2 separate regions of the Homo sapiens genome follow, and region 2 is linked to region 1. Evidence: fine-mapped expression QTL. A gene starts in region 1. The other region holds a variant in brackets. All regions are shown on one strand. Distances are between the middles of the regions.

Region 1 (10,977 bases):
AACCCGATTGTATATTCCATCTACTGAGATAGGGGAAAACCGCCTTAGGCCTGAAGGTGGGACATGCGGGCAGCAATACTGCTCCTTAAGGCATTGAGATGTTTACGTGTATATGTATCTAAAGCACAGCACTTAATTCTTTACATTGTTTATGATGCAGAGACTTTTGTTCACGTGTTTACCTGCTGACCTTCTCTCCACTATTATCCTATGATCCTGCCACATCCCCCTCTCACACATCACACCCAATAATGATGAATAAATACTAAGGGAACTCAGAGGCCGGGTGGATCCTCCGTATGCTGAGCGCTGGTCCCCTGGTCACCCGATTTCTTTCTCTATACTTTGTCTGTGTCTCTTTCTTTTCCAAGTCTCTCATTCCACCTAACGAGGAACACCCACAGGTGTGGAGGGGCAACCCACCCCTTCAGCCTGGGCGACGCAGGGAGACTCCATCTCAAAACAAAAACAAAAACAAAAACAAAACAGGCCAGGCACGGTGGGTCACGCCTGTAATCCTAGCACTTTGGGAGGCCGAGTCGGGTGGATCACAAGGTCAGTTCAAGACCAGCCTGGCCAAGATGGTGAAACCCCGCCTCTACTGAAAATACAAAAATTAGCTGGGTGTAGTGGTGGGCACTTGTAACCCCAGCTACTTGAGAGGCTGAGGCAGAGAATCGCTTGAACCCGGGAGGTGGAGATTGCAGTGAGCCGAGATCACACCACTGCACTCCAGCCTGGGTGACAGAGTGAGACTCCGTCTCAAAAAAAAAAAAAAAAAAAAAATTGACCCAGCATGGTGGCACTAATCTGTAACACCAATTACTGGGGAGGCCAAGGAAGGAGGGGAGGATCACTTCAGCCTAGGCGTTCAAGGCTGCAGTGAGTGATGATTGCGCCATTGCACTTCATCCTGGGCAACAGAGCAAGACTCTGTCTCTAAAAACGAGTAAATGAGCTCTCGGACAAAAAGCTCCCAGCAGCACAGTTCCTGCGCAACTGATGCTTACTAAGTAGGATCTTGACAAGCACCCTTTCCACAAGTTGGGAGACAGAGTGGGTTGCAGGAGGGGGCATGGGGGCTGTGGTGAGCAGCGCTGGAGATCCTCACCTCTCTGCTGGCTTGCCTGACACCAGCGCCTTCTGCGACGACATGATGATGGAAGGGGGCACAGATTCCCGGCGGCCATCGCGAGTGCAATAGTAATTGTTGGAGAGCTTGTGGCTAGGACCCACAGGGAGCTTGGGAGGAGGCTGAGTTCTGAGGGGAAAAAAGATGAGCACTGAAGCAAAGAGACAGTCACTGTCATGGCCCCGCTGTGGGCCCCTGTCACCTCAGTCACAAAATGTGGGATCTACAGCCAGCCACTGGGATAAGCCACAGGCTGGGGGTGTCCCTTGGTACACTGGCAGGGACATATGCCTGGGGAGGGGTCCTGGGGCCAGAAGCAGATGGTGGACCCTGCTCTGGATGTGAAGATGCCACCCCCAGGGACCCCACCTGTCCCAAATGTGGAGGGTACAGAGGACCCTTTCTGAGGCTCCCAAGGCCCGGGACATGTCCCCATGCCCCCCACCCCACGGCTGAGCTTGGCAGCCAGCCTCACTTGACTTTGTCCACTCTGAGTGGCTTTTTCCCCTAAAGCCAGGCTCTGGACGCCCTGCGTTTCCTGTTATCTCAGGAAGTCTCTGGAGAACCCTGCTAGGATCAAGGCCCATTATTCAAGAACACCTTAGCCTTGGAGCCTGTCAAGATCTCTGCATTTCCTGCCACCATGTGGCCAGGCAACTCCTCTCTGGAGCCCAGAGAGGGGTGAACAGAGCTCGGTCTTGGCTTGAACTAAACCCTGGGCTGGATTTACCTGGAAGCCTGAGGCCTTAAAAGAAATGCTCAAAACAAGGATGGGCAGGGTGGCTCATGCCTGTAATCCCAGCACTTTGGGAGGCCGAGGTGGGTGGATCACTTGAGGTCAGGTGTTCGAAACCAGCCTGGCCAACACTGCAAACCCCATCTCTACTAAAATACAAAAATTAGCCAAGCATGGTGGTGGGAGGCAGAGGTTGCAGTGAGCTGAGATCACGCCACTACACTCCAGCCTGGGCGACAGAGCGAGACTCCATCTCAAAAAACAAAAAAAGCTCAAAACAAAAGACGGGCTTTCCAGAGAGAGGGAGGAGAGAAGACAGCAAAAACCGTAAATTGATCTGTTTCCACTTAGCCATGTTTCTAAGTCACTTTTTTGTCTGGGAACTGTTTCCCGGAATTTAATTTTTTTCTGAGGCAGTGATCATATGCACTGCAGCCTGGATGATATATGCAATCATATGATCGCTTGAGGTGTGATCATAGCTCACTGCAGCCTCAACCTCCTGGGCTCAAGCAATGCTCCCGCCTCAGCCTCTCAAGTAGCTGGAACTACAGGCGCACACTACCACATCTGGCTAAAAACAATTTTTCTATTGTTTTTGTGGAGTCGGGGGTCTTGCTATGTTGCCCAGGTTGATGTCGAATTCCTGGCCTTAAGTTATCCTCTCACCTTGGCCTCCCAAAGTGCTGGGATTACAGGCGTGAGCCACCACTCCTGGCCTTTTTCTTAAAACAAGTGTTAGTCACTGTATTTTTTAAAAATAAGAAACATAAAGTAAAAAATGTTTAATATTAAAAGCAATATATTATGTGAAAGACTTTGCTTAAGGAGGCTGGATGTGGTGGCTCATACCTTGGGAGGCCAAGGTGGAAGGATTGCTTGAGGCCAGGAGTGTTTTTTTTGTTTGTTTTTTTTTGAGATGGAGTCTCGCTCTGTCGCCCAGGCTAGAGTGCTGTGGTGCGATCTCGGCTCACTGCAACCTCCGCCTCCCAGGTTCAAGCGATTTTCCTGCATCAGCCTCCCAGGTAGCTGGGAATACAGGCGTGTGCCACCATGCTGGCTAATTTTTGTATTTTTAGTAGAGATGGGTTTTCACTATGTTGGCCAGGCTGGTCTCAAACTTCTGACCTTGTGATCCGCCTGCCTCGGCCTCCCAAAGTGCTGGGATTACAGGCATGAGCCACCATGCCCAGTCAGAGGCCAGGAGTTTAAGACCAGCTTGGGCAACATGGTAAGACCTTGTCTCTATACAAAAATTTAAAAATTAGCCAGGCACGGTAACATGTGCCTGTAATCCCAGCTACTTGGTACGCTGGACCAGGAGGATCACTTAGGCCTGGAAGTTCGAGGCTGCAGTGAGCTATGATTGTGCCACTGCACTCCAGCCTGGGTCACAGAAACCCAGTCTTACAAAAAAAAAAAAAAAAAAAAAAAAAAAAGGCCAGGCGCGGTGGCTCACACCTGTAATCCCAGCACTTTGGGAGGCCGAGGCGGGCAGATCACGAGGTCAAGAGATCAGACCATCCTGGCAAACATGGTGAAACCCCGTCACTACTAAAAATACAAAAATTAGCTGGGTGTGGTGGTGCACGCCTGTAGCCCCAGCTACTCGGGAGGCTGAGGCAGGAGAATCACTTGAACCCGGGAGGCGGAGATTGCAGTGATCTCAGATCCGCCACTGCACTCCAGCTTGGCGACAGAGTGAGACTCTGTCTCAAAAAAGAAAAAAAAAAAAAGACCAATAAAACATCCAGATGAATCACTAGAGGGTGCCGTCATCCTAAAAAAGTCAAAACTTTCACAAAGCCATTTCCTCAACTGGCCCACAACTACCCTGATAGAAAGCCAACTAGGGGGGTCGGGGGTTGGGGGGGAGAGAGCATCAGGAAGAATAGCTAATGGATGCTGGGCTTAATACCTAAGTGATAGGTTGATCTTTGATCTTTGCAGCAAACTACCATGGCACGTTTACCTTTGTAACAAAACTGCAAATGTACCCCAGAACTTAACGTTAAAGTTGAAAACAAGCCGGGCGCAGTGGCTCACACCTGTAATCCCAGCACTTTGGGAGGCCGAGGCAGGCGGATTATGAAGTCAGGAGTTCGAGACCAGACTGGCCAACATGGTGAAACCCCGTTTCTACTAAAAATACAAAAAATTAGTCAGGCGTGGTGGCACATGCCTGTAATCCCAGCTACTTGGGAGGCTGAGGCAGGAGAATCGCTTGAACCCGGGAGATGGAGATTGCAGTGAGCTGAGATTGTGCCATTGCACTCCAGCCTGGGCAATAAGAGCAAAACTCCGTCTCAAAAAAAAAAAAAAAAAAAAGTTGAAAACAAAGTTTGATACTTCTAATATTTGGAATTAGTCACAACATATAGGCATTTACATAAATTTCATTATTTTAATGCTATTTTTCTTCCTTTCATTATAATCCTCAATGACTGCCTTACCTCTGCCTACCCTTTGACTTCATAGATTATACCATTATCCCTTTCCCTCAATGGGTTCCATCCATACTGGCCTCCTTCCACTCAGGCTCTGTCCAGCCTGACACTCTTAGCCCTTCCTGTTCCCTCTGCTCAGAATGTTTTTTCTTTTTTATTTTTTTGAGACAGAGTGTTGTTCTGTCACCCAGGCTGGAGTGCAGTGGTGCGATCTCAGCTCACTGCAATATCCACCTCCTGTGTTCAAGCGATTCTCCTGCCTCAACCTCCCGAGTAGCTGGGACTACCCGCGCGCGCCACCACGCCCGGCTAATTTTTGTATTTCTAGTAGAGAGGGGGTTTTACTGTGTTTCACTGTGTTGGCCAGGCTGGTCTCAAACTCCTGACCTCGTGATCCGCCTGCCTCAGCCTCCCCAAGTGCTGGGATCACAAGCGTGAGCCACCGCGCCCGGTCAGAATGTTTTTTCAATAATTATTCTTTGAATGGGTCCTTCCCATCATTCAGGGGACTCAACTGTCAATTTCCAAAGAAAGATCTTTCCCAATCATCTGACTTTACGTAGCCACCCTCCAGCTTCCACTTATTTTGTTTTGTCTTCAAAGCATTCCAGAACAATACTACCTGCTGTGTTTGTTTCCCTACTATGCTTCTCCCTAGAATGTGGCGTCCATGAAAGAATGTGGATAAGAACTTTCCTGGTTCACAAAGTTAAACCCAAGGCTGAGGTCATACATGACGGGGGCTTGTAAATATCAACTAATATTTTAATATAAATGAGTCTGAAATCAGGACACTTCTGGGTTCAAGTCCCCGCTGCCACTTTTTAGCTTCTGAGTGACTTGAGGCAAATGATTTCGCCTCTCTGGACCTCTTTTTTCATCTGTAGCTTGGGGATAACACTGACTAACATGGCCACGCTGAGCACTGCAAATCTAGCCTGATTGCCAGTCAGAATGCACGCCCGGCCTCGCTGTTTCAGGAGGGCTGTCCTCCGGAGTTCAGCAAGGTTAAAGGCAAACCTCTGCCTCCACAGCCTGGCAGGGGACTGGTGGCAGGATGTCAGCCCTCCGTTTCAGGGGTCTAAAGGAACACAGATTTCGTTTTTGGTGGAGAAAGGACAGAGCCAGAGGCTGGGCAGCGAGCGGGGCCTGCTCACCGCTTGGAGATCTCCTGGTAGCGTAGCTGCAGCTTCCCCTGCAGGTCATGCTGTGGGAAGAGGAGAGGAGAGGTCGGCCTGCAAGGCACCCCAGGAGAGAGGAAAGGAGAGGGCAAGGGACCAGGGATGGTCCGGGGATGCGCATTTTAAGGGAAGGCAGGGGATGAACACTCGGGGAAACGGATGTGGGTCCTGCAGGTGAAGAGCAAAGCCAGAGTCCGGGCCCACAGATCCAAGGCTAAGAAGGTCGGGGACTGGGGAAATCCCAGGCCTGAGTGGTTCCCAGGCCAGGAGAGGGTCCCGGGCTGAAGGGGTGACTAGCTGGGGGTTCCCAGGGAGATTCGGGGAGAGCGAAGGGTCCCGGCTTAGGAGGGAGGTGAGGAGCAGGAGCGGGTCCCGGACACACGGAGCCCGAAGCCCCCCATGGTGCAGCCCTGTCCGCCCCGCGCACCCCGGACGCCCAGTTCCGCAGCCGCTGGATGAGACGGGTGGCGGACGCCATCTTCCGTCCGCGATACTGAAGGGCGCAGCCGGTGACGTCTCCACCGCTGGGGCTGCTGGGAAAGACGCGGCGTGGTATCGCGAGACGGGAGTGGGCGGTGCTAGAACGTCCTATAAAGGCTCTCCCCGAAGCACGTGACTCCTCTCCGCCAGACCGCCGCCGCGCCGCCATCATGGACACCAGCCGTGTGCAGCCTATCAAGCTGGCCAGGGTGAGGTGGGGGCCCGAATTTGGGGGCAGGGGGAGGGATTAGAGGAGCCAAACGGGCCGGGTCTGAACCCAGCTTCTTTCCTCCAGGTCACCAAGGTCCTGGGCAGGACCGGTTCTCAGGGACAGTGCACGCAGGTAATCGGGTGGGGGCATTTGGCCGACTGCCGGCGACCTAAACCCTGATGTGACCTCTACCCTGCCCTAACCCCTGCCAGCCGGAATCCGGGAGCCGATTCTCATTTCATCACGGGGTTCTGATGGTTCCCTTTAACGATCTGTATTCTGGCCCCGACACGTTCTCTGAATTCATATCTGCTTCCCACTCCGCGGTGCCTTTCCGCGGCCCGCCCTTACTTCTTCCTCCACTCCGGTGGGGACCCGTAGGTGCGCGTGGAATTCATGGACGACACGAGCCGATCCATCATCCGCAATGTAAAAGGCCCCGTGCGCGAGGGCGACGTGCTCACCCTTTTGGAGTCAGAGCGAGAAGCCCGGAGGTTGCGCTGAGCTTGGCTGCTCGCTGGTGGGTGCAAAGAGGACACCCCTTTGATAGACCTTTGGTTGGTGGTAGGGAGGCTTCGTTAAGCCCAGGGTGAGAGGGTTTGGGAGGCAGAGTCTACATACAGAGACTGACAAGAGGGAGGCGGGAGTTTGCCAATTGCTGCGGGGCCTGTCAACATCTCATGTTTGGGTCTGTTTACAGGGTCTTGGATGTCGGGTTCGACCACTTGGCCGATGGGAATGGTCTGTCACAGTCTGCTCCTTTTTTTTGTCCGCCACACGTAACTGAGATGCTCCTTTAAATAAAGCGTTTGTGTTTCAAGTTAACTCAGGTTCTTGTCTGGGTTATACGACTAGGGTTTCTCCAGGTTTCTTGAGTGGCTCCCAGGCGGTCACCGATCCTCCGCACTCTGGAAATCCTGGCCGTGCGGTCTTGCCAAACGAAGCTTTTCCTTTTTGAGGCGGGGGGTCGTGTTTGTCGATTGCACCCTCTACCCCAAACAAAACACAAGCGTAGTAGGAATGTTTTATTAGCAAAGAAGTTTCAGAGAGTGGGTGGATCAGGGCTCTATCACTTGGTCCCCACCTCACCTTGGTGGGGCCAGAGTGAGCCCCTTCCTGCCACAGTCACCCCAACTGAAATTGCCTTTCTCTTCGGCCAGTGTTAGCCTCTGAGCAGGGGACCCTGGACCCTTCTGTGCGCCAAAGGCTGAGGTGACTGACGAGGAGATCTCCCCACAGCTAGGTGTAGTGAGCCAGACGAGGCAGCTTACTGAACCTGGGGGTTCTCTCCATTGTCACCGCATTCTCCTTCACCAGGTGTGGCTGTCTGGGAGCCAGGGGGTGACTCGCTCTGGAGAGAGGGGAAAAGAGGGGGGCCTGCTGCAATCTCCTTGAGGCAGGAAACGTGGGATTCAGCCCCAGCCTCACTTAGTGGAGGTTCTTTTACCATGGACCCAGGCTGCCTGGTTTGTATCCAACCTCTGCCCCTTCTGACCTGGAAGAGGCGCTTGACCTTCCTCCCACATCCCTTCCAGTGGGGTGAGTACAGGTGTTCCTCAGTTTACAATGGGTTACATTCCGGTGAGTACATCATAGGTTGAAAGTATTGCAAGTTGAAATGTGTTTAATACACCTAATCTCCCAAACATCACAGCTTAGCATGGTCCATCTTAAGCTTGTTCAGAACGCCTTAGCCTGTAGTTGGGGAAACTCGTCTAACACGAAGCCTGTTTTAATAAAGTATTGAATGTCTTATGTAATTTATTGAATACTCTGCTGAAGTGTGGTTTTTACTAAGCACACATTGCTTTTATGCTATCATGAAGTCAAAAAATTGTAAGTTGTGCCAGGCGCGATGGCTCACAGCTGTTGTAATCCCAGCTACTTGGGAGGCTGAGGCAGGAGAATTTCTTGAACCTGGGAGGTGGAGGTTGCAGTGAACTGAGATTGTGCCGCTGCACTCCAGCCTGGGTGACAGAACGAGACTCTTGTCTTCAAATGAAAAAAAAAAATTAGCTGGGCATGGTAGCACGTGCCTGTAGTCCCAACTACTTGAGAGGCTGAGGCAGAAGAATCGCTTGAACCCCAGAGGTGGAGGTTGCAGTGAGCTGCAGTCGCCCCACTGCACTCTAGCCTCGGTGACAGAGGAAGACTCCATCTCAAAAATAAATAAAAAATGGTAAGTGGAGCCATGGTAAATTGGGGTCAACCTGTACAGGATGAGTGGGCTGATTAGATAACTTGGATTATGAAAGTGCTAAAACATCCTGGCACTTGGCCATCAGAGTATAGTGGTGTTGGGGGTTAATGTGTTCTGCAAACTCACCCAGTCTCCAGTTCTGAAGCTCTGGACCCCCTTCCCCACCCTGCCTGATGCCAAAGGGCTCCTTTTTCCTTTGATAAGAGCCTCCCTGGCAGTAGGTAACAGGAGCCCAGGGGCATGCATGAAAGGTCTTAGCTAGGTCTCTGTGACCTTAGGTTACTTCCCCCCTTGAGGACTCAGTCTCATGACCTGGGGTAGTGTCAACCTCACTGGGGTTTTGCTGCTTTCACATCAAATCCCAGCCCCTGCCAGGCGCTCTGGTTTCACACCTGTAATCCCAGCACTTGAGGATGCTGAGGCAGAAGGATCCCTTGAGCTCAGGAGTTTGTGGCTGCAGTGAGCTCTGATCACACCACTACACCCCAACCCGGGTTACAGAGTGAGACCCTGTCTCCCAAAAAAGAAAAGCAGCCACATAGGAGAATCCAGACACTGGTTCTGCACCCCTGGTGCCACCTTTGGGGAGCAGAAAGGGAGGCTCAGGGCATATTTACTATCCTCTGCAAACTGAATTTGCAGCTGGGAAAGTTTGTTTCTTCCAGAGCTGTGCTCACCTGGGTGTCGGGCTGGCCCGAGCTCAGGTGGGCATGTAGCAGAGCGGCCACCTCATCCTGCTCAGCCTCCAGGGCGATGGCCAGGGCACTGGTGCCCTCCTGTGGAACGTTAGGGACAGTCAGATCCCTGAGCCAAGCCATGGGCACCCCCCAAGATGCCAGCCCCATTGTGGGGTCTTACATTGTCCAGGATGGCAGGGTCACAGCCTGGCTGGGTGAGCAGCAGCCGCACGGTGTCCAGGCGCCCATACTCACTGGCACACATCAGCGCTGTGGCCCCATCCGCATCCTGCGCATTCACATCAGCCCCACACGCCAGTAGGGTTGCCACCATGTCCTGTCGGCCATGGCTGATGGCCAGCATGAGGGCTGTCTGCCCCGTCTGGGGAGTGGGGAGGAAGAGGGAACAGGCTGGGGTAGGCTCAGGGAAGGGAGGTCACAGGTTGACTCCCAAAGTGGAAGTGACTCCTGGCTGAGAGCCACAGTGGGGGCGCCCACGCACCTGACTGGCCTTGGCATTGACATCACCCATGCAGAAGAGTCTCTGGACCACAGCCATGTCCTCCTCTTCCTGCCTCACAGAGGTGAGTGCAGCCAGCATGAGGGCCGAGTAGCCGGCTCGGTTCTGGCGGTTGACCTCGCAGGCCCCTGGGAGAGAAAAGGGGGCCGTCCACGGAGATGCCAACACCGCGGCCCGACTTGATCCACTCACCTCCCTGCAAGCCTCGGGCACAGCACCTGCATATGGGGTGGTCTCAACGTTCTCCCCACAATAGCTACCTGGTTCCTCCCTCACTAAGGTGTTGCTCAAATACCATCTGCTCAGTGAAGGACCTTCCTGTTTCATCTTTTTTTTTTTTTTTTTTTTTTTTTTGAGACATAGTCTCGCTCTGTCACCCAGGCTGGAGTGCAGTGGTGCGATCTCAGCTCACTGCAATCTCCACCTCCGGAGTAGCTGGAACTACAGCATGTGCCATCACACCCAGCTAATTTTTGTATTATTTAGTAGAGACAGGGTTTCACCATGTTGGCCAGGCTAGTCTCGAACTCCTGACCTCAAGTGATCCACCCACCGTAGCCTCCCAAAGTGCTGGAATTAGAGGCATGAGCCACTGGCCCAGTGGCTATTTCAAATCAAGTCCCTGTTTCAAATCAGGCAGGGACTTGGTTTTGTTTGCTTCTGTATCCCTCAGTACTTAGAACAATACTTGGCACATAGTAGATGCTCAGTTAAACATTTGTTGACTGAATAATAAAAGGATATGTTTATTTTCATGGCCACCACCCGCCAAGCCACCATCATTGCTCCCCTAAAGAACAGTGCCAGCCTCCACCCTTCTCTCTGAATCCACTCCAGGTTCCACACAGCAGCCAGGAGCAACTATTTATTTATTTAGAGATGGAGTCTCATTCTGTCGCCCAGGCTGGAGTGCAGTGGCACGATCTCAGCTCACTGCAACCTCTGCCTCCCAGGTTTAAGCGATTCTTCTGCCTTGGCCACTTGAGTAGCTGGGATTACAGGCATGCACCACCACGCCCAGCTAATTTTTGTATTTTTAGTAGAGACGGTTTCACCATGTTGGTCAGGCTGGTCTCGAACTCCGACCTCATGATTCGCTTGCCTCAGCTTCCCAAAGTGCTGGGATTACAGGTGTGAGCCACCGCGCCTGGCCAAGAGCAACAATTCAAAATGAATTTGGTTGCCAGGACACTGGCTCACGTCTGTAATCCCAGCACTTTGAGAGGCCGAGGTGGTTGATCACTTGAGGTCAGGAGTTCGAGACCAGCCTGGCCAATGTGGTGAACCCCATCTCTACTAAAAACACAAAAAATAGCCAGGCGTGGTGGCAGGCACCTGTAATCTCAGCTACTCAGGAGGCTGAGGCAGGATAATCACTTGAACCTGGGAGCTG
Region 2 (11,314 bases), 230 kb before region 1:
GGGCTGCCCTTGCCACCTCCAGGCAGAGGGGTGACAAGAGAAAGACCTCGGAGATGGTGCTTGACTCCATGCAGATGGGAGGGGGTGAGATTGCAGGGGACATGTCTTGGGCATCCCTTTGGGGCCCTAGACTGCATGCAGTGGTGGGAGTGGGGGAGAGTTGAAAGGACATCACCTTTGCAGGTCCTGCCATCCTCCTCCAGCAGGTAGCCTCGGGGACAGCTGCACAGGAAACTGCCCTTCGTGTTTTTGCAGAGGAAGGTACATGGCTTGGGGACCTGGCTGCACTCATCCATATCTGGGGAAGGACAGCGTGGGTAGTGGGGCGGGGTTAGACAGACATTCCCTGGGGGTGTTCAGGGACTGAGGTCTCCACCAGACCCCGACCATCTGAAATCTGTGGACTTACACAGGAATGAACACTTCTTTCTGCAAAAAGCCAGGTGGGAAATACATTTGGTTTTGCAGGCCACACCATCTCAGATACAACTACTCCATGTGGCCTTTGTACTAGCAAAGCAGCCATTGAGGGTAAGCAGACAAATGTGCATGGCTGTGTGCTAATAAAACTTTATTGACAAGAACAAATGGAGGGCCAGACTTGACCCTCGGGCTAGAGTTTTCTTCCCGCTGACTTAGATGTACGCTTGCTACAAAACACAACTGAAAAATATCAGGATGTGCAAAATAAAAGGAAGAAATAACAGCAGGAAAGTGGCCCAAACAGGGTGGGGGTGGGAGAACGAAAGGATCCTCCCTCCCTCCCTCCCTCCCTTCCTTGTTTCTCTCTTTCTTTCTTGAGACGGAGTCTCGTTTCATCACCCAGGCTGGAATGCGATGGCGCAATCTCAGCTCACTGCACCCTCCGCCTCCCAGGTTCAAACAATTCTCCTGCCTCAGCCTCCCAAGCAGCTGGGATTACAGGCACATAACACCTGGCTAATTTTTTTTCTTTTTTTCTTTTTTTTAGTAGAGACGGTTTCATGATGTTGGCCAGGCTGGTCTCAAACTCCTGGCCTCAAGTGATCCTTCTGCCTCAGCCTCCCAAAGTGTGCTGGGATTACAGGCGTGAGCCACCTCACTTGGCCTTCCTTCCCTTCCTTCCTCTCCCTTTCTCTCTTTCTCCCTTTCTCTTTCTTTCTTTCTGTTTCTTTCTCTTTCTTTTTGTCTCTCTCTCTTTCTTTTTTCTTTCTTTCTCTTCTTTCTTCTCTTTTTTCTCTTTCTCCCCTTTCTCTTTGTTTCTTTCTCTCTCTCTCTCTTCCTTCCTTCCCTTCCCTTCCTTCCTTCCTTCCTTCCTTCCTTCCTTCCCTTTCTTTCTCTCTTTCTTTCTTGACAGAGTCTCACTCTGTTGTCCAGACTAAACTGCAGTGGCATGATCTCAGCTCACTACAACCTCCACTTCCTGGGTTCAAACGATTCTCCTGCCTCAGCCTCCCGCGTAGCTGGGATTATAGGCATGCACCAGCACGTGCAGCTAATTTTCGTATTTTTAGCAGAGATGGGGTTTCACCATCTTGGCCAGGCTGGTCTTGAAATCCTGGCTTCAAATGATGTGCCCACCTTGGCCTCCCAAAGTGCTGGGATTACAAGCATGAGCTACTATGCCTGGCCTGTTTTTTTTTTTCTTTCTTTCTTTTCTTTTGTTTTTCATTTTTTAAGAGACAGGGTCTCACTCTGTCACCCAGGCTGGACTGCAGTGGCACAATCAGCTCACTGCAGCCTCAGACTCCTGAGCTCAAGCAGCCTCCCAAGTAGCTGGGGCTACAGGCGCATGTGGGACTACAGGCCACCATCCTGGCTAATTTTTTTTAGCGATGGGGTCTTGCTATGTTGCTATGGAACTCCTGGTCTCAAGTGATCCTCCCACCTCGACCTCCCAAAATACTGGGATTACAGTAGCGAGCCATCACACCTGGCCCTCAGTTGTCTGTATGGTTTGGGCACCACTTTGTAAATGAAAGCCTAACATTGCAAAGTGGAAAGTCTCAGGGAAGTTGAGTTCAGGGGCTGCACAGAAGGTGGCCAGGCTGGGCCAAGGGTGCAGGTGCAGAGGGCTGGGCTCACCCAGGCAGGTAGTAGCAGTAGCATCCGGTGTGTACCCGGCCTGACAGTGGCAGCGGAAGGAGCCAAGGCTGTTGATGCACTCCCCATGAGCACACAGGTGAGCAAGCATACGGCATTCATCTACATCTGGGAAAAAGTAGGGTGCAAATGGGGCTGGCTGGCTGCTTCGCGCCTCCACCGAGGAATGTCTCCTTCTCTCTGCCCAGCAGCCGTCTCCTCGGAGGAAAGTCCAGCCTCCCTTCCACACCGGCCACTGCACCCCAGCCCACGTGGACCCCATCCTCAGGCTGCGGATGACACCTGAGCCCGCAGGACACGCCCATGAAGCTTCCAGGGAAGGGGACTCACACCCACCCCTCCCCAGCCTCAACAGCGACACCTCCTCAGTGCACCAACATGCAGAACAGAGACACACAGTGCATGCAACATGATACACTAGCCACACACCTAGATGCTCCTGCAGAAACACGGGAACACACGCCAACACTCAGGGACTCCCGAGTCTCCCCCCAGCCACACCCCCAAAAAGCCATTTCCTCCCCAGTCCTACTATTTTTTCTTTTTTTTTTTTTTTGAGACAGAGTCTCGCTCTGTCGCCCAGGCTGGAGTGCAGTGACACGATCTCTGCTCACTGCAAGCTCCGCCTCCCGGGTTCACGCCATTCTCCTGCCTCAGCCTCCCAAGTAGCTGGGACTACAGGCACCTGCCACCACGCCCGGCTAATTTTTTGTATTTTTAATAGAGACAGGGTTTCACCGTGTCAGCCAGGATGGTCTCAATCTCCTGACCTCGTGATCTGCCCGCCTCAGCCTCCCAAAGTGCTGGGATTACAGGCGTGAGCCACCGCGGCCCTCCCCAGTCCTGTTGATGCCACTGCTGGTCACATGGATAACCCATCTCACTATCAGTGACACACTCAGTGAGACGCACTGATGTCCTTATGCTCGCTCACACGCAGACACTCACATACCTGCCCTTGTACACTCACCCAAGTCCACAACACACAGGCCGCTGGCTCCCTCTCACTGCCTTCTACTTCACAGATGAACATGGTGTATACTTCTCACCCAGCTGACACACACAGACACACACCAGCTCCCACGCAGTCCGGAACGAGCTCTCACTCACAAAGAACACACACTGGGCCGGGCGCGGTGGCTCATGCCTGTAATCCCAGCATTTTGGGAGGCTGAGGTGGGCGGATCACTTGAGGCCAGGAGTTCGAGACCAGCCTGGCCAGCATGGCAAAACCTCATCTTTACTGGCCATGGGAGAGCCAGCCTCTCCCACGGCCCCAAAGAGATCCTTTGGGTCTGTTAAGGCCCTCTTGCTTTTTATTTTTATTTATTTATTTTTTTGGGACAGAGTTTCTCTCTGTTGCCCAGGCTGGAGTGCAATGGCGTGATCTCGTCTCACTGCAAGCTCTGCCTCCCGGATTCAAGGGATTCTCCTGCCTCAGCCTCCCGAGTAACTGGGATTACAGACACACGCCACCAAATCCAGCTAATTTTTTGTATTTTTAGTAGAGATGAGGTTTCACCATGTTGACCAGGGTGGTCTCAAACTCCTGACCTCAGGTGATCCGGCCGCCTCAGCCTCCCAAAGTGCTGGGATTACAAGTGTGAGCCACTGTGCCCGGCCTATTTTTATTGCTTTTGGAGACGAGGTCTTGCTCTATCACCCAGGCTGGAGTGCAGTGGCACTATCTTAGCTCATTGCAGCCTCAAATTCCTGGGCTTAAGCAATCCTCCTTCTTCAGCCTCCCAAAGTGCTGGGATGACAGGTATGCTACTGGGAGGCAGAGGTTGCAGTGAGCTGAGATTGCACCACTGCACTCCAGCCTGGGTGTCAAAGTGAGACTCTGTCTCAGAACACATACACACACATTGGCTCACACAACTGCTCCCTCAACCCCCCGAGTTCTTCCATGCATATGGTGCACACGTACTGGTTCTCATATCTGCTAGCACAAAGACACACACACACACACACACACACACACACACACACAGTGTGGCTCACACATTCCAGCACCTGCTGCAGTACAGACACATGACCCTGAGCAAACTCCCCCGTTTCTTGCCTCCCTGGGGGTCCTGAGGGCATGGGCACCCACCTCGGCCCTCAGCAGTGTAGCCTGAGCCATGGGGGCACAGCTTCCTGTAGGCAGAGGTGCCGGGCAGGGGACAGAGCTCGCAGCGGGGCCCCCAGCCCCGGCCACCCCCACAGCAGCACTCGGCCCTGGTGACAGCCTCACTGCTGCTGGACAGAGACCGGCACATGGTCTGCAGCACCTCGGCAAAGCAGGGCCCCTGCCGGATGTCTGCAGAGAACAATGGGAAAGACAACGGTCACTCCAGGAGGCTGGTTTGGGGGCAAAGACTGAGCTTGCTTTGGGGCAAGCTGTATTTTGGGGGTGTTGGGGACAGGGGTGTCCAGGAGGGAGTTGGATACACAGGACAGATGGCCCTAGTGGGTCACCGGCTGGGGTTAGCTCCCCAGAAGTGGGAGATCTGGGGAAGGTTGGTTCCGGGGTGTGGCGCCAGTAAGTTGGAGGAGGCATGGAGGGAGCGTCCCGCTCTTCCAGTATTTAACAGAAGGGACAGAGGGAAGAGGGGCAGCAGGGGAGCACTGGACATGTGTGTCCGGATTAGCTCAGCAACCCCCTGGGTTGCCCGTCAGTGCCGCAGGCCCCGTCCCTGCCTTGGAGGGCTCCCAGACAGTGGGAGGGACAGGCAGTGGGAGGGACAGGCAGTGGGGGGACAGGCAGTGGGAGGGACAGGCAGTGGGAGGGACAGGCAGTGGGGGGAACAGGCAGTGGAGGGAACAGGCAGTGGGAGGGACAGGGAGTGAAGGGGGCAGGCAGTGGGGGGAACAGGCAGTGGGGGGGGACAGGCAGTGGGTGCCACATGGTAGGTGGTTGCAACCACTGTGCGTGTCCAGCCACACTCACCGTGGCACTCGGTAAGGGTGGGGCTGGGCTGGAATCCCTCATCACAGTCGCACCGGAAGCTGCCCGCGGTGTTGACACAGCGGCCGTTGACACAGAGGTCAGGCTGAGCGTGGCATTCATTGTCATCTGAGATGGGAGGGGTGAGGCAGGTGGGCGGGGAGGCCACAGGCAGCCAGCCTCTCCCACAGCCCCAAAGGGCCCCTTTGGATCTGCCCAGGCCCTCTTGCTTATTTTTATTTTATTTATTTTTATTATTATTATTATTATTATTTTTTGAGACAGAGTCTCGCTCCGTTTCCCAGGCTGGAGTGCAATTGCCTGATCTTGGGTCACTACAACGTCCACCTCCCGGGTTCAAGAAATTCTTCTGCCTCAGCTTCCCAAGTAGCTGGGATTACAGGTGCCCGCCGCCACGCCCAGCTATTTTTTTTTTTTTTTTTGTATTTTTAGTAGAGACGGGGTTTCGCCGTGTTGTCCACCCTGTTCTCAAACTCCTAACCTCAGATGATCCAACCGCCTTGGTCTCCCAAAGTGCTAGGATTACAGGCGTGAGGCACCGTGCCC[A/G]GCCTTATTTTCATTTTTATTGTTTTTGGAGATGGGGTCTCACTCTGTCGTCCAGGCTGGAGTGCAGCGGCACTGTCCTCCCACTGCCTGTCACCTCCACTACCTGTCCCTCCCACTGCCTGTCCCCCCCCACTGCCTGTCCCTCCCATTCATTGAAGCCTCAAATTCCTGGGCTCAAGCGATCCTCTCGCCTCAGCCTCCCAAAGTGCTGGGATGACAGGTATGAGTCACCGTGCCCGGTCCAACCCTCTTGCTTTGACCTCTCCCTTCCACAAGGAGTTTCCTGCACCCATGAAGCTCCAGTGCCCCATACCTGTGCAGCCCTCCCCAGAGCCAGGCAGGGGCCGCATGCCTGGGGGACAGACGCACGCGAAGGTACCGATGAGGTTCTTGCACTCCATGCCCCGGGCGTGGCAGTCCTGCTGACCATCTGCACACTCGTCCACATCTTCGGATGACCAGAGACAGATGGTCAGTCAAGGCCAGGCACCCTATGGCTGTGGGGACCTGGATTCCACCCTGCGTCAGCCCTGTGGGACCTGAGTGAGTTCCCTGCAGACCCTGTCAAATGTCTATCCCTCTTAGGAAGGGAGCCCCCAGCTCCTGCCCAGCCCCAGCCTCCAAGAAGCTGAGGGAATCAGGAATTGTCCCCCAAAGCTTGCATCCCCTGCCCATGTCAGGGTCTGTGAGTCTGCTCATGGCCCCTGGAACACTGACCCTGAAACAGCCCCAGAGACACTGAGTCCCAGACCAGGGTCTCCCACGCTTGACACTATGAACATTTGGGATAGGAAAGTTCTTTGCGGTGGGCGGCTGTTCTGTGTGCATTGCAGGATTTTTTTTTTTTTTTTTTTTTTTTTGAGGCGGAGTTTTGCTCTTGTCGCCCAGGCTGGAGTGCAGTGGCATGATCTCGGCTCACTGCAACCTCCGCCTCCCAGGTTCAAGCGATTCTCCTGTCTCTCAGCCTCCCAAGTAGCTGGGATTACAGGCGTGTGCCACCATGCCCAGCTAATTTTGTATTTTTAGTAGAGACAGGGTTTTACCATATTAGTCAGGCCTACCTCGACACATGGCCCCATCCTCCCGCAGGGTGTAGCCGGCTGGACAGGTGCACAGGTAGGAGCCCTCGGTATTGTGGCAGCGGAAGGCACAGAGCAGCGGGTTCAGGGAGCATTCGTCGATGTCTGGGGAGGCCAGTGGAGGTGCCAGCTGGGTAGGGACTGAGGGCGGGACCTCCACTCCCTCCCCCAGGCATCTCCGTCACACGGCCCAGGTCCTGGGCAAGCAGAGTTGTACCCTCGCAGGTCATCATGAGGCCAGGCTCAAAGCCGTCAGCACAGGCACATTCGAAGCCTCCGATGACATTGGTGCATGTCCCTTGCCCACAGGGGTGGCCGACAGAGCACTCGTCTGTGTCTGGGTGGGAGTAAGGGGGTGGTCAGCACCTGCAGAGGGTCCCCCATCCTCAGTAGCATCCCATCTGCCTGCCTGTTGACCACCACAGATCGGAGGGGGCCAGATCGAATGCACCTCTAGTCTGGCTATGGGGCAGGCAAGCGGTATGTGTTTAGTGAATGAATGAGTGAATGTGTGAGCAAGTGGGCAGGTAAAGGAATGCATGAGTGAGCAAGGGAGTGAGTGAATGAGCAAGAAGTGAATGAATGAGCCAGTGAATGAAGGAGTGATTAAACCAGTAACTGAAACTGAGGCAGGAGGGTCATTTGAGCCCAGGAGTTCCAAAAGAGCCTGGGTAACATAGCAAGACTTCATCTCTAAAAAACATATAAATGAGTAAGTGAATGAATGGTTAAATGAATAAGGGAATGAGTGAGTAAAGGGGTGAATGAGTGGGTGAATTACTGAGTGAGTGAATGGAGAAATCAGCAAGGAAGTGAATGAATGAACAAGAGGGCAAATGAGGAAACGAATGAGTGACTGAATAAGTGAGTGAAAGCATGAATGAATGAGCAAAGGAATGAGTGAGTAAATGAATAAATGAGTGATTGAATGGGTGAATGAGCAAGGAGACAAATGAAGGAACAAATGAATGAGTGAACAAACAAGCAAGTGAATGAATGAGGGAGCAAACGAGTGAATGAGTGAATGAGTAAATGAATGAGTGAGTGAATGAATGAGCCAGTGAATAAATGAGGTGTGAATGAATGAGGGAGTGATTGAATGAACAAGTGAATGAATGAACAAGCGAAGGAATGAGTGAGCAAAGGAGTGAATGAGTGAGAGAATTAGCAAGTGAATGAGTGAGGGGGCAAATGAGTGAATGAGTGAATAAGTGAGTAAATGAATAAGTGAGTAAATGAATAAGTGAGTGAATGAGCAAGTGAATGAATGACGTGTGAATGAATGAGGGAGTTAGTGAATTAATAAGTGAATGAATGAACAAGTGAAGGAATGAGTGAGCCAAGGAGTGAATGAGTGAGTGAATTGGTAAGTGAATGAATAAGGGAGTAAATGAGTGAGTGAATGAGTGAATGAATGAGAAAATGAGTAAGTGAGTGAGCAAGTGAATGAATGAGTCAGTAAATGAATAAGTGAATGAGTAAATGAATAAGTGAGTGAGTGAATGAATGAGCAAGAAAATGAGTGAGCAAGTGAATTAATGAGTGAATGAAGCACAGAGGGAGAAAAAGTGAATGGGGGAGAGAGGCAGTGGTTAAGGACAGGATCTCACCCACTGCCTGGGGGTGTCTTCCCTGCCCTGCTCTGCTCCTTCCTGTCCTGGGAGGGGCCTGGGACAGAGCTGGGGAAGGGCTGGCCACTCACCCACACAGTTGATGCCAGTGAAGTCCAGGCTGTAGCCAAAGGGACACTCACAGCGGAAGGATCCATCGGTGTTGACACAGACGCCGTTAGTGCAGACGCCAGGGTTCTCTGCACACTCATTCACGTCTGCGGATGGCAGGCGTTGCAGACATGGCTTCTGTCACCACACAATCGCCAGAGCCCTGGCCACACTCAAGGCCCCAAGGGGACAAAAGCCCAAGCCCCAGGCTGGCAGGGTCCAGGGCCACCCAGGCTCTCAGGGGGAGCCTGAAACTCAGAGACCCAGGCAGTGCGGAGATGGATCTGGGTGGCCCAGAAGGGGCTCTTAGCATGTGGGTGAGGGGCTCACCTTCTCGGGAGTCATCCGGGCCTGGGACTGCCCCGTGGCCAAAGGGGCAGAGCTCCTGAAAGGCAGCTGGACGGAGAGGGGGAGGGGAGTCAGAGTCAGGGCCTAGGTGCAGCCCCCAGGTGTGTGCAGGGAAGGATGAGAGAAGAATGAGAGAGGAAGGTGAGGGCACATCATCCAGGGAGCCTGGACAGGGGTGGGCACTCACCGCTGCCCTCCTGGGGACACAGTTCGCAGGGGTCTCCCCAGCCCTCCCCAGGCCTCTTACTGCAGCAGCAGCGGGTCTTGGTGGTGTTGAAAGCTTTGGGCACCGAGCACTTCCCAGCCTCAAAACGGGTGAAGCAGAAACTCTGCCGTGTGTCTGTGGGGTGGGGGCTCCATTACCCTGATTGAAAGCCGCTGGCAGTGCCCACCTGCCCCTGTGACCTCCCGCACCCCAGTCCTGGTGAATGGGTTGTGCTGATCCTGCCAGTGGCCAATCAGAACATGCCATGCCCCTGGTCATGGTGATTGGTTTGAGTATGGACATGTGACCTACTCTGGGCCAATGAGGATCTGCCCTGGGTTTTTAGTTGTTGTTGTTGGTGGTGGTGGTGGTTTTTTTTTTTTTTCAGATGGAGTCTTCCTCTGTTGACCAGGCTGGAGTGCAGTGGCACGATCTCAGCTCACTGCAACCTCTACCTCCCAGGTTCGAGTGATTCTCCTGCCTCAGCCTCCCAAGTAGCTGGGATTACAGGCATGTGCCACCACACCCGGCTAATTTTTGTATTTTTAGTAGAGACGGGGTTTCACCACATTGGCTAGGCTGGTCTCAAACTCCTGACCTCAGGTGATCAGCCTGCCTCAGCCTCCCAAAGTGCTGGTATTACAGTCATGAGCCACCGCCCCTGGCCTGCCCTGGGGTTTTGAGGGGACAGCTGGAATCCCACCCCACTTCATTGCTTTGGGGTGTTCTCATGCCAGGAAGAAAGATCAAACTTGGTGGTTACTCTTGGATCAAAAACCCCTTCCTGGAGAGGCAAAACGACTGATTCCAGAAAGCCCGAGGATCCAAACCCCCAATCCTTGGCTCTGGACACCTATCAAGTCCTCACCAGCAGGCTGGGGTCCCAGCCTCCCAGAACAGCAAATATTCGCTGAGGTGAACTGCATGCTCTGCTCTCACCCTTATTGCCCCTGACCTGTGAGAGAACAGGCTGGCTCAAGCTGGGTGAGGTTAGCCCACAGTAGACAAGGCTAGCCCAGCTGAAACGGAGCCAGCCCAGAGTAGTCTAGGCTAGCTCAAACTGGACAAAACCAGCCCATTGACAGCCTACAGTCATGTGACCAATACAAGGAAAACCTAAATAAGCACACACCTAGCTCAGAATGGACCAGGTTAGCCCTCCATAGACATGACCTCTATAGCCAAGAGGTTGCTGGCACTAGGATAACTCTGCTAATGCAAACAGACACCTCTGCCTGGTCAGAGCTCCCAAAGGGTCACACAAGAAACCACAGCCCTCTTTTCTGGGCAATCTGACCCTTCCCCGCCCCACTTCCCACCCTCTTCCCTAAGCCCTGTGTGGACTTACCAAAGCAACGGTGCCCATTGTCAGAGAGGACAAAGCCAGGTGGGCAGAGGCACTGGAAGCTCCCAGGGCTGTTGGTACAGGTGCCAAAGAGGCAGAGGTTGGGCTCCTCTGAGCACTCGTCGATATCTGGAAGGGCAGGGACATGAGCTGGGTGGGGGGCAAGTAGGACCTCCATCAGTGGGGAGAGGACTCAGCTGTGAGAAGGGACAGATGGAGTGCAGGTCCAGCCAGGGGCTGCAGTGGGGCTGGGGTCCTGAGAGCTCAGTATGAGCTTCAGCACGAGGTGGGCATTGTGTGTGCACGTAGGTCCTTCCCGGAAGGCATCTCCAGAGTAAAGGTCATGGTCAGGAATAGTTCATGATTGGAGACTGAAACTGCACATAGTACAACCTCTATGGAAAACAGTGTGGCGATTCCTTAAAGAACTAAAAGTAAGGCCGGGCGCGGTGGCTCATGCCTGTAATCCCAGCACTTTGGGAGGTGGAGGCGGGTGGATCACCAGGTCAGGAGATTGAGACTATCCTGGCTAACATGGTGAAACCATCTACTAACAATACAAAAAAATTAGCCGGGTGTGGTGGTGGGCGCCTGTAGTCCCAGCTATTCTGGAGGCTGAGGTAGGAGAATGGCATGAACCCGGGAGGCAGAGCTTGCAGTGAGCTGAGCTCATACCACTGCACTTGAGCCTGGGTGACAGAGCGAGACTCTGTCTCAAAAAAAAAAAACCAAAAAACTAAAAGTAGAACTACCATTCAATCCAGCAATCCTACTACTGGGTATCTACCCAAAGGAAAGTAAGTCATTATATGAAAAAGACACACGCACATGCATGTTTATAGCAACACAATTCACAATCGCAAAAATCTGGAGCCATCATATTTATAAATGCCCATCAGCCAACGAGTAGATAAAGAAAATGTGGTATATAATACACCATGGAATACTACTCAGCCACAAAATGGAACGAAATAGGCACAGTGGCTCACACCTGTAATCCCAGCACTTTGGGAGGCCAAGGCTGGTGGATCACTT

The links.
Region 2: its variant is fine-mapped to the expression of RPS28 in kidney cortex (GTEx, PIP above 0.99).

What each region holds. Positions count from the first base shown.
Region 1 is chr19:8,315,385-8,326,361 of GRCh38, forward strand. RPS28 (ribosomal protein S28) reads left to right here and starts at 6,112. Exons shown (of 4, transcript NM_001031.5): 1 at 6,112-6,185; 2 at 6,272-6,319; 3 at 6,569-6,707; 4 at 6,888-7,956. The coding sequence starts at 6,147. The coding sequence ends at 6,691. NDUFA7 (NADH:ubiquinone oxidoreductase subunit A7) reads right to left here and starts at 5,991. Exons shown (of 4, transcript NM_005001.5): 1 at 5,924-5,991; 2 at 5,473-5,522; 3 at 1,112-1,261. The coding sequence starts at 5,974. It overlaps KANK3 (KN motif and ankyrin repeat domains 3), which reads right to left. Exons shown (of 11, transcript NM_198471.3): 8 at 9,567-9,712; 9 at 9,246-9,446; 10 at 9,065-9,163; 11 at 7,200-7,538. The coding sequence ends at 7,455. RefSeq lists enhancers at 4,111-5,078, 5,079-6,046, 5,901-6,140, 6,047-7,014, 7,015-7,980 and 1 more.
Region 2 is chr19:8,081,183-8,092,496 of GRCh38, forward strand. FBN3 (fibrillin 3) reads right to left here. Exons shown (of 64, transcript NM_032447.5): 48 at 10,283-10,408; 49 at 8,917-9,069; 50 at 8,712-8,777; 51 at 8,363-8,488; 52 at 6,878-6,997; 53 at 6,643-6,765; 54 at 5,895-6,029; 55 at 5,018-5,143; 56 at 4,181-4,387; 57 at 2,065-2,190; 58 at 176-298. Among named protein-coding and RNA genes, the nearest start is that of CCL25, 34 kb to the left of the region's middle. The variant A/G (reference allele first, on the strand shown) is at 5,582.